Homo sapiens: one gene and its partner. The protein of the gene in region 1 binds, or shares a complex with, the protein of each later gene. Each region holds a gene or a part of one and is shown on either strand. Other genes may lie near its edges. The genes, in order: MOB4 and STRN3. A codon is read from its position in the direction of its gene.

The links.
Region 2: the proteins of MOB4 (region 1) and STRN3 are in contact, whole or in part, in a cryo-EM structure (PDB 7K36), measured with the Homo sapiens proteins. Residues at the interface, in NP_056202.2 of Homo sapiens: Arg12, Asn13, Arg14, Pro15, Gly16, Thr17, Lys18, Phe22, Trp25, Thr36, Gln40, Gln41, Tyr71, Arg75, Cys78, Leu79, Asn82, Val86, Lys87, Gln89, Ala112, His113, Ile122 (codon at 5,753), Asp123 (codon at 5,750), Arg126 (codon at 5,741), His127 (codon at 5,738), Leu129 (codon at 5,732), Asp130 (codon at 5,729), Gly131 (codon at 5,726), Ala133 (codon at 5,720); in NP_001077362.1 of Homo sapiens: Arg477, Ser478, His479, Phe480, Asp481, Asp501, His502, Thr503, Glu524, Tyr527, Thr528, Arg530, Ala531, Ile533, Ile553, Pro569, Tyr570, Asp571, Thr572, Tyr573, Asp587, Ala588, Trp590, Ala606, Asn652, His683, Asn685, Arg765 (codon at 2,232), Lys766 (codon at 2,229), Lys767 (codon at 2,226).

What each region holds. Positions count from the first base shown.
Region 1 is NC_000002.12:197,546,797-197,554,097, reverse strand, and holds the end of MOB4 (MOB-like protein phocein), read right to left. Parts: intron 5,763-7,301; coding exon 5,683-5,762; intron 3,824-5,682; coding exon 3,712-3,823; intron 3,584-3,711; coding exon 3,452-3,583; 3' UTR 399-3,451; downstream 1-398. Other genes in the region: HSPE1-MOB4 protein, read right to left, coding at 3,452-3,583, 3,712-3,823, 5,683-5,762.
Region 2 is NC_000014.9:30,893,281-30,897,657, forward strand, and holds the end of STRN3 (striatin-3), read right to left. Parts: intron 2,469-4,377; coding exon 2,382-2,468; intron 2,336-2,381; exon of another isoform or gene 2,301-2,335; coding exon 2,131-2,300; 3' UTR 524-2,130; downstream 1-523. UniProt on the Homo sapiens protein: Calmodulin-binding scaffolding protein which is the center of the striatin-interacting phosphatase and kinase (STRIPAK) complexes.

The DNA of each region.
Region 1 (7,301 bases):
AAAACAGATTTGAATGTTCTTATCATCTCAAATAAACTGCTAAGCATATTGCACAAATACGTTTTTTTTTTTTTTTGAGACGGAGTCTTACTCTGTCGCCCAGGCTGGAGTGCAGTGGTGCAATCTCGGCTCACTGCAACCTCCACCTCCCAGGTTCAAGCTATTCTTCTGCCTCAGCCTCCCATGTAGATGGGATTACAGGCATGCATCACCACACCTGGCTAATTTTTGTATTTTTTTAGTAGAGATGGGGTTTCACCATGTTGGCCAGGCTGGTCTTGAACTCCTGGCCTCAAATGATCTGCCCACCTTGGCCTCCAAAGGGCTGGGATTACAGACGTGAGCCACTACATCTGGTCCATATGTATTGTCTGTTAACAATGAGATGCTTGAAGAAATAAAAATCAACTACTTTTACTAAAATATTCGCATAGCATGGAAGAACTACACAAAGAAACCTTTAGCACATTCAACAAGGATTCACAAAATAAAGTATATACAATTTAAAATTTAGCTGCTCAAAAAAGATGTCATCATATAGACAGTAGGGCAAAGTACTCACATAAAAAACTTAGTTCTACTATTACAGTGAATTTGACATCAACCAATAAATGTGTTTATAATCGTAACACAGTCCTTACTAACAATGTAATCAAGGATTTTTTTTTTTTGAGACGGAGTTTTTGAGACGGAGTTTTGCTCGTTACCCAGGCTGGAGTGCAATGGCACGATCTCAGCTCACCGCAACCTCCACCTCCCGGGTTCAAGCGATTCTCCTGCCTCAGCCTCACGAGTAGCACCACGCCCGGCTAATTTTTGTATTTTTAGTAGAGACAGGGTTTCTCCATGTTGGTCAGGCTGGTCTCGAACTCCTGACCTCAGGTGATCTGTCTGCCTTGGCTTCCCAAAGTGCTGGGATTACAGGCGTGAGCCCCTGTGCCTGACCAAGGATTTCTAATTGTATTCTGATAGTAAAAGTTGTTAAGTCATCAAGAATTTAACTGAGAAACTGTTCTAGAAATCCAAATTTGACATCTCAAGTCAGAGAAAAGGAAATGTATACACACAAAAGAAGGGTTACTTATGGGAACATAAATAGTTAAAAGTTAGCTACTTTCCCAGATGTGATAGGAGAAAAAGAATGAATTGACTATACGATCTTTTGGAAAGAAAAGCCTAAGTTTACCTTCGGATATACATAGGGTAATTCAAACAAAAAGTGGAGCCTAACTTCCTTATCACACAGAACTGTCTTGTTCCCCTCTTAGAACACTTACTTTTATAAATCAATGGTTTGCCAGGCTCATTAATTTTTTAGTAGTATTTATGTATATATAAGTACATTTTCAAAATTCTGAAAACAGTATTAAGGAAAAACAGGAACTGTTTCACTTAGGTCTTACCTAGTATAGTAGTGAATCAACTTCACAATTAGTAAGATTATCAACATGAATACAAAAGCAAGACTACAAACTGATTATTTTCTTTTGGAGATGTTTTATGATCAATTCCAAACATACAGTACAGGGAAGGTGAAATGAGTAAGAAAAAAAAATCATATTTAAGTCCCCGTTAACACTAAGCCATATTATTCAAAATGTGTTTCAAAATACTCAGCCAGATCACCAAATCTCAGTCACTACCTTAGTATAAATATTCACTAAGAAAATAGTCAAGCAACAGAAATCCATTGTGAGACACCATCTAGAGAGAACAGCTACACTGCTATATATAATTTATTAACTTAGTAGTTTAGTTTCTCAATATTTAGCAAGTTTAAAAATTACCATTACCATTGGTTTATAGTGCCATTAATATAAATCCATAATTTCAAAGTCATCATTCCTTTCACTGTGAACTAAGACTTCTTAAAAGATAGTTGTGGGTTGGGGAACAGTAATGACTGTAGCTGATGGGCAGTGTTCAAAGCCAAAAAGACTGGCAAGCTTGGAAAGGCATACACTATACATACACACACTCTCAGTATACTACTGTTCCCCTTATTTTTGCTGTACATTCTTGTCTGAAAAGATGGTATAAATTATTCCCTTAAATTTGAAAAAACAATTAAGATGAATACATTTTCATCTTCAAAATTATCCTTCTAAATAAAAAAGTTCCTCATGTTTGTTAAATCTGTTCAAAAGTTGGATTTAAATACTTTCTTCACAACATGTACAATGTTTTCACCCTTACTGCCTCATTACAATCAGTTTGGCAATAAGACCTCCAGTGCTTTATCAAAAATGGCATTCAATAGATTATAAGATTGTTAAATCTGCATTTCAATCATTCTTACCACAATGAATTATAACAAAGTCCAAAAAAATGTATGACTATTCATCAACACCCTTGGAACCTATGAATTATTGCAAATAATCTCACACGTGCATGTAATCCAAACATAAACTTCGTGGGAGAGGGGGTGTAAAATAAATACTATGGTATTTCTTCAATTCTATTTAATGCTGCCTAGCTGGTTAAATGAAAGATTAATATATTACTAACAGGAAGAGTCAAACTATTTTAAGGACTGTTTTCTAAGTAGAACAATTTTGCAAAACAAAGATAAGCAAGAGCCTATGCAAATACATTTTCTTGTAGTGTAATGTAATTGCTAATATGAGGTATAATCTGTAAGCAATTAATACAAATATAAATAGGTATAAGCCACCACTAACTCAGTCTGGTGAAAAGCTTCTCAGCTAAAGTAGTTTGAAGATAAGGTTAAGGGAAATGAGAAGGGGTGGACAGGGCAGGTTTCCAGTGGGAAAATAATTTATGTGCCTTACCATTGTGATCATCCTGTATGTACCAGTCCGTTGTTGCAGAACGGTAAATCCTTTCCAAGTATGTTATACTTTATGTAGCACAGTAAAATTATTTAAGTATTACTAATGCTTCATTTGCATTTGTATTTAGATATACACATAATTATATATGCATATCAAAAACTATAAACAGAATTTTAAAACACTTTTATCTCAATTGGGGAAAGTTAACAGGTAAGACAAAACTACGTACTACAGAATTTTTTAGGATATCTAAACTCAAGGTAAAACCAATAGAAAACATTTCTACCTCTTTAGTAAATGGCTTGTGTGAAACCTCAAGCTCTCCCTCATTTTTTTTACAGATGGGTTTGTCTGATGAGGATTGTGATCCAATGATTGTTTAGCAGCAATTTTACCAAACTGTAAATTCTTTTATTAACAGGCATTATAAACAGATAATACTAATCTTATTTAAAAACCATGAGTGCCACACTGGTGAATATACAGCTTATGAATAACTTAAAAAGTATTTCCCATTTTAAAAGGCAAACCCAGCATACAAAAACCTATACTAAACAAAGAAGCTATAATATGGATACATGATTGATGTGTCTAAAATGATATATACAGTACATAATGTTAATTATATGATCAGTACATTTTTCCTATGATTCCCTTCATGCTTCACTTTCCCCAGAAACTGAATTCTGTACTTCCTCTTCTAAAATTGGTACAATCAGGTTATCCTTGGACATCAAATTGTATTTCATCACAAACTTAGTAAACCGATGACACAAAAATGTTTCATTCTGTAGAGAGGAAGACAAAAATGTTATTTTAATTCACTATCCCAAACTAAAAGACTAGAAATAACATCAATATATATTACTGTTACACTGATAAGAATGCATCAAGATAATCAGTGAAATATACTTACTTCATATTCATCAAATATCTGCCGATGATGAAAATAAGCATGTGAAAATATTCTGTAAATCCTACGGCATACTGATCCTAGTTTCGCTACAGATGATTCCTTTATGCTAACCCTAGAAGTAGAAAAGAAACCATAGATTCTTAGAACTGGATAGAATCTTAGGAACAATATAGTCCAATTTCTCGCTTACAAGTGTAGAAACTGACACCTAGGGAAAATAAGCGACTACTCCAAGGTCACACTGCGAGTAAATGCCTGGAGCCCCTGCTCCTCAGTTCTAGGCCAGTGTTCTTTCTACCTAATCACAGGGCCTAACTTAAATTCAGCATTATAGTTTTGAAACTTTGTAAAAGTTTAATGCAGTTAGAATAAATCCCTGACATTTCAAAATTTACTATAACATCTATTTCCAACATTAATACATTGTCCACTAGAGGCGATTGAAAACTCCTGAAAGGAATTATTGTTTTATTTTACAGAACTAGGTTATTCTTTCCTTTTCTTTTCTTTTTTTTTTTTTTTTTTTTAGAAATTAAGGCCAGGTGTGGTGGCTCACGCCTGTAATCCCAGCACTTTGGGAGGCCAAGGCAGGTGGATCATCTGAGGTCAGGAGTTCGAAACCAGCCTGGCCAACATGGTGAAACCCCGTCTCTACTAGAAAATACAAAAATCAGCCAGGCGTGGTGGCAGGCACTTGTAATCCCAGCTACTCATGAGGCTGAGGCAGGAGAAACGCTTGAACCCAGGAGGCAGAGGTTGCAGTGAGCTGAGATTGCGCCACTGCACTCCAGCCTGGTTGAGCAAGACTCCATATAGAAAAAGAAAAACAGAGAGAGAGAAATTAAAATTGTTTTTTTAAAATTGAAATTTTCTGCATATTTCTGATATCCTTTTTTAAAATATGTATACACAGAATATTAAGGTCAAAAGTCAGTATTTTTCTTAACATATTTTATATGAGCTCTTTGAAGCTAATCATATTTGGTGGGGGAAATCTCCAAATCTATCCACCTGGTAACAAATACCTTAATAAAATAAAAGGCAGTCACAAACTTCACCGATAATATATTACATGTACAGACTTCTCAGATCTTAAAAATCAATGAGCAAGGATAAGGAATCCTTCAAAAACAAATAAGAAAGTCTGCTCTTTTTTTTTTGAGACAGTTTCGCTCTTGTTGCCCAGGCCGGAGTGCAATGGCGCGATCTCGGCTCACCACAACCTCTGCCTCCTGGGTTCAAGCGATTCTCCTGCCTCAGCCTCCCAAGTGGCTGGGATTACAGGTACTCGTCACCATGCCCAGATCATTTTGTATTTTTAGTAGAGAAGGAGTTTCTACATGTTGTTCAGGCTGGTCTCGAACTCCCAATCTCAGGTGATCCGCACGCCTCGGCCTCCCAAAGTGCTGGGATTACATCCGTGAGCCACTGCGCCCAGCCAGAAAGTCTGCTCTTTAGGCATACTACATAAAGGGAGGTCGAGTCTAACTAACATAGAGATTCAAGTGAGCAAGTATATACATATCCCAACTCTAAAGCATGAGAGGGAGAGCTCTGCAGAATGACATATATGAACAGGTACTAGCCTTAGACTGAACTGGCCTTGAGCTTTGACAGCCAAGTTCTGCTGTTTAACCACAGTCCTAATTTCAAAACTTGAATAAACAAGCCAAAATACAACAGCTAAAAAAAAAAATACAAAAATGCATTAACGAGCAACCTAATTTTACTTTTAAAATACTAATCTTTTATTTTATTATTATTTATACTTTAAGTTTTAGGGTACATGTGCACAACGTGCAGGTTTGTAACATATGTATACATGTGCCATGTTGGTGTGCTGCACCCATTAACTCATCATTTAGCATTAGGTATAGCTCCTAATACTATCCCTCCCCCCTCCCCCCTAAAATACCAATCTTATAAATTAACTCTAAAATGTTTAACACTATGTTTAAAAGTTTCGATTACCTGCTGGGAAAATATTTATTGCTATTCAGAAGACATGCAGCACCATCAAGTGTGTGTCTAGTATAGTCTATAGCAGGACACTACAAAAGAAAGAATATAGAAATGCATCAACAAAGAGCTCTCTCTTAAGTTAGATATATTCATTATATGGGTATACCTTATTCCAAAGACATGAGCATGTTCTAAGAAAAAAGTTCCTTACAATTTCCGAATGCTTGTAAAATATAATGTTATATTAATAAGTAAGGTTTATTATCCCCTTGAACCATATCACAATTCTAGATGATACATAAACCAGTCTCCCATTTTTATTCCCAACATCGTACCTACAAGAAAACAACAATTACAGACAAGAAGAATCCTGATTTATCTCTGGTATCTCCAGGGATGCCTTCTTATATCCTAAACAATATTCCTTATTATGTCCCTAGCACTCTATTATCAATCTAGCAGCCCTCTAAAGAACTTTCTCCCAGATCACCTTTGAATTTTAACATGAAATATCAAAGTTTCCTTATATTTTAATAAATCTGACTTATTCTGTTCCATTTATCAGAAACAATGAAAAAAAGAAACAATGAAACACTGTCTCATGGCAACTCAGTAAATTTATTAAAGGAAAAATAAAACTGCAAAGTAATTGTCCTCATCCAGTCCTCCTGAGGGCAGACAGGGAGCAACATCAAGGGGAAAGCAGTCTAGAAACAAACCAGGGAGTCAACCAGAAGGAAAAAACAACTAGAGGAAGGAGTAACAATGACTGTAGCTCAAAGACTCTACCCAGTAATTAGGTTATTTTTCAAGTTTGAGACTGAAGCTGTCACTTAGAAATACGGTTTAGTAACTACTAAATATGGCTTAGTGCCGTGGCACTAAAAAATTACCTAATAAAAAAGAAGTATTTTTCTAACAATATATCCACAGGAATTTCTGATTAGTGGACTCCTTGCCAAAAACAGTACCATGAGCAATATTTATTGAAAAAAACTACCTTTCTCCAGATATATGACCACAGATGAGTTGGTCAAAAGCAAATATCCCAAGTAACTGTATTTCTCATATTTGTCATTTGGGTATACCATGAGACAGTTTTACAACCTTTAAACCAGAATCATCAACAGAAATACAGCAGACCCTTGAACAACACAGGTTTGAACTGCGTAAATCCACTTATGCTCAGATTTTCCCAGCAACGGCAAGACCAACCCCACTTCTTTCTCTTTCTCCTCAGCCTACTCAACGACATGAACACAACAAGGAAGACCTTTACAATGATCCACTTAATGAATGGCAAATATATTTTCTCTTCCTTACGATTTTCTTTAAAAAAAAGAAAGAAAGAAGGTCTCACTATGTTGACCAGGCTGGTCTCGAACTCCTGGCCTCAAGCGATCCTCCCATCTCAGCCTCCCAAAGTGCTGGGTTTACAGGCATAAGCCATCACGCCCAGCCCCTTATGATTTTCTGAATAACATTTTCTCTAGCTTCCTTCATTGCAATACACTATATAATACACAGAACATACAAAATGTGTGTTAATCGACTGTTATCGGTAAGGCTTCCAGTCAACAGTAGGCTATTAGTAATTAAGTTTTGGGGGAGTCAAAAGTTAGATACTC
Region 2 (4,377 bases), on another chromosome or scaffold:
GGACCATAGGCACCCGCCACCACGCCCGGCTAATTTTGTGTGTGTGTGTTTTTAGTAGAGACGGGGTTTCATCGTGTTAGCCAGGATGGTCTTGATCTCCTGACCTCATGATCCACCCACCTCGGCCTCCCAAAGTGCTGGGATTATAGGCCTGAGCCACCGCGCCCGGCCAAAAACCGCAATTACTTTTGCACCAACTAACCTAAATATTCAATGTAGTTTATTCCTTGCTGAATTTTTTTGTGGGAACAGGTATGGCAAATAGAACAACACTGCCATTAATTGAAATTCAGATTTAATAATGTAACAGGATGTCTAAGCAAATTACTTAAAACTGCACCTGTGCATTTCTGGGGGTTATTTTGAATTGCATAATTTAATGCAAGACTTTTTCTTAATCTTCAAGTGGGGTGAAATACTTAGACATTATTAATAGTGTTAGTGATCTACTCTTATTAGAATATCAATAAGTAGGACAAAGTTTGAAAGAACAGCATAAAAATGAAGGACTCACTAAGAAATCTCCATTTCCTAGTTTAATTATGGAGAATAAAGTATTGCACTTTATTATTCAACACAAAATGATGTAGCCAACAGTAACATACAGGTACACAATTTAATATTTATTATATGCATTTTATATACATTATTTTTCAACAGCTGTATGTTTGCTATGTGGTACAATCTTAAAAATTTGCTGATTCATAGTTTGTAAAACAAAAACCTTACAAAACTCATCAAAACTCGCAAACTGATCAGAAAAGTTTCTCGGAAGACTAGAAAAAATACTTTATTGTCTTAATCATGCATTACACAAACAAAATCTTTAGTTACACCATAAAATTAAGCACATCTAAAAAAATAAAACAGGGATAACTAGTCAAAACACAGCAGATTTCTGTATCCTGATTCAACTATTTTTGTATCCTATTTGTAATGCAAATAAAACTTTACTCCAAATATTTTTAAACAAGTTAGTTTTGTTTGGAATCATGGTAAACCAAGATATATATCTTAGGGGGAACCACCTTGGTTTGTAATTTAAACTATAAAATACTCCATTTTTAGTCTATTTTAGACTATTCAAAGAGTTCCAAAATAGATATACAGGTTCCTTTAGCACATTAATAAAAGGATATAAAGACCAACAAAAAGTGAAATAAATAATAGGCCATTAGCAAGATGGATAATCCTTGATAAATAAACTTGTAAATACAGTAAGATGTACAAAATATCACATAGTGATAGGATGCCAAGATTAGTTTTTTTCTTTAAGAGTTCATTTGGAGTACTAAACCCCACTGTTTCATTTTAATACACTTAATAGTCCTTGGTTTATGAAGACATTTATGTGATGATGAAAGTTATTTAGCATCTTTATGGAAGGACTTAGCTGAGCTGTATTAGGCAAAAGAAGGAAAGAAAGTGGTTACAGGGCAACGGGTCAGTGAGATCTCTGTGTTTTAGGGTTGTATAATGCAGAAAAACTTCAATACAATCTTGAGCACTGTTGTGACAGGCTAAATATATAAAAAGACTTATAAAAACTAGAATTTTATCCAAACATTTTGTGCAACTAATGCTAAAATATTTTAAGTTAAATTTTCTTTTTCTTTTTTTTTTTTTTTAAAGCAAAATAAGTTTAAAAGGGAATCTGTGGCATTCAACCGATAAACAGAAGATCACTAAGAGATGAAAAAAAGCTACTCTTGGAGCTCACTTCCCCCAACAAGAGCACCACATTCCTAACCCCTAAGGCAGCACACAGAGTCCAAAAAAAAAAAAAAAAAAAAAAAAAAGAAGAAGAAGAAGAGAAAAAAAAAAACTTTTTTGAAAGATCAGACTCCACATTGGCTTAAAGACACCTAAAAACAGATATACGCTCAGTTCACATCCAGTACAGGCCACAAATACTGGAGTCCTTTTTTCTTTGTCCCACAAAATACAGTAATTACAGTTAACTTAATGAGCTTGACATTAAGATGTGATTTCCACCAATTTGTGCCTGCCCCAGATAGCCTTCACCAGGCAGATCACATGTAGTGTCATATCAGTAACCTTTCTGATGGCAGTGATGCAGACCCTCTTTCTGTCCAAGCAAATCTTGTTACGATGCAAGTTTTTGTTGATTCATACAAATACTTTGGCAAGAGCATCAGCTCCTGCACTAGCTATATATGCTTTTGACGAGTGGAAAGCAACATCATAAATTGATTCATCCAATTTCTTTCTGTGAGCTGTTATTTCTTGCACACATGTCTTGCTGTCTAAATTCCATAATCTGATGGAACAGTCATGGCCTGTAAAAGAACAAATAAAATTTGTTACTGAGTAACAATCTTTTATAAAGTTTGTGGGCAGTACAGGACTTTAAGACTTACTTCCAGACATCAAATAGATTCCATTAGGATCTACTGCTAGACTTGTAACAGCATCCAAGTGAGCTACCATAGAATGGATCATTTTACCTAAACAAAACATAACAGAGAACTGATTAAGTTTTCACAAATACTAACTCGAGACAACAGAAACTACAATATAGCATCAACATAAAACAATCATTATAGCAACTTTTTTATTGTGGTAAAATATACACAACATAAAATTTACCACTGTAAACATCTGAGTACACAATCCTGTGTCTTTTAGAACATTCACAATGTTACACAACCATCACCATTCTCTAGAGTTCCGAACATTTTCATCACTGGAAAAGGAAACCCCATACCCAATTAAGCAGTCACTCCTATTTGCCCCTCCAACCCCTGACCACTAATCGACTCTTTCTATAGACTGGCCTATTCTGGATACTTCGTATAAGTGAACTCATACAATACGTGGCTTTTTGTGTCTGGCTTCTTTCACTTAATATAATGTTTTAAGGGTACATCCACCACTACGGTAATGTTTTCAAGAGAATTTTAATTCAAATGCATAACTTTCTCTAATAATTACTCCTAAAAAAGACATCTGTGTAACATGTATCTGACAATATCTGATAGACACTGTAAAGCAATGACAATAGGATTGCATCAAAGGCTCAAGATCGTGTAAACTGGAATTAAATAAGCCAAGTGTGGTGAGGTGTGCCTGTAGTTCCAAGCTACTCAGGAGGCTGAGGTTGTGGAATCACTTGAACCCAGGAGTTCAAGGCTGCAGTGCACTATGACTGTGCCTGTGAGTGGCCACTGTACTCTAGCTAGCCTGGGCAACATAGTGAAATGCTGTCAAGAAAGGAAAGGCAAGGAAAATGGGAAGGAAAGAGAAAAGAGAAGAAAGAAAAGAAAGGGAAGGGGAGGGGAGGGGAGGGGAGGGAAGAAGGAAGGAAAAGTGTCAGTGAAAGACCTTAAGACTATTTTATATACTGGGCTAACAATAAATAAATCACCAGAAAATATGTTTCTACCTAAACATTCCATTATCAAGTTCAGTTCACTTATCCTTTGAAATATAATCATTTTACATACTCTAAAAAAGAAAGGAGTAAACAAATTACTCTAGATTTCCCCAGATATTAACAAAAACACTGCTCTGGAAAATGTGACTTAATGAGTATCTTCAGTGAAGATTTGGCAAGCAAATGGAATTCAACAGCAAGTAGAATTTAAAAGACAAGTTGTGAACACAAAGTTGTATTGCACAAATACTTTGGGGCAAGGGCATCCTGCAATGGTAATATATGCTTTGGATGGATAGAAAGCATTATAAACTGATTCACTAGGCAGGCAATAAAATATAAATACTGATACTTTTATAAGTTACTCTCCTTTCACTCAGCAATGAGTCTTTATTACTCAAATGCCTGGGATGTCCCTAATGAAAGATAGAGGCTTTTTCCAAAATTCTAGTTATAATCATTAGCCATGCCTCTGGTCCCATGATGATACTCTACACTAGGATATGAAAGAGGTCTAGTTTTGTTATTTGTGATGGGGCTATAGCTGTTGACCTGAATACAAAACCACAACATAATAAAATGTGTAAAAATACACTCCAAAAAACCTATAAAAAGTAATATAGTAGGCCAGCTGTGGGGGATCATGCCTGTAATCCCAGCACTTTGGGAGGCTGAAGCGGGCAGATCACCTGAGGGCAGGAGTTCAAGACCAGCCTGGCCAACATGGGGAAACCTTGCCTCTACTAAAAATACAAAAATTAGCTGGGTGTGGTGGTTAGCACCTGTAATCCCAGCTACTAGGGAGGCTGAGACAGGAGAATCGCTTGAACCCGGGAGGTGGAGGCTGCAGTGAGCTGAGATCGTGCCACTGCACTTCAGCCTGGGTGACAGAGTGAGACTCCGTCTCAAAAAAGAAGAAAAGTCCTATCACTTTCCAGCACTATTAAACACTTATCAGTTGAAGACAAAATTTAAAAAAA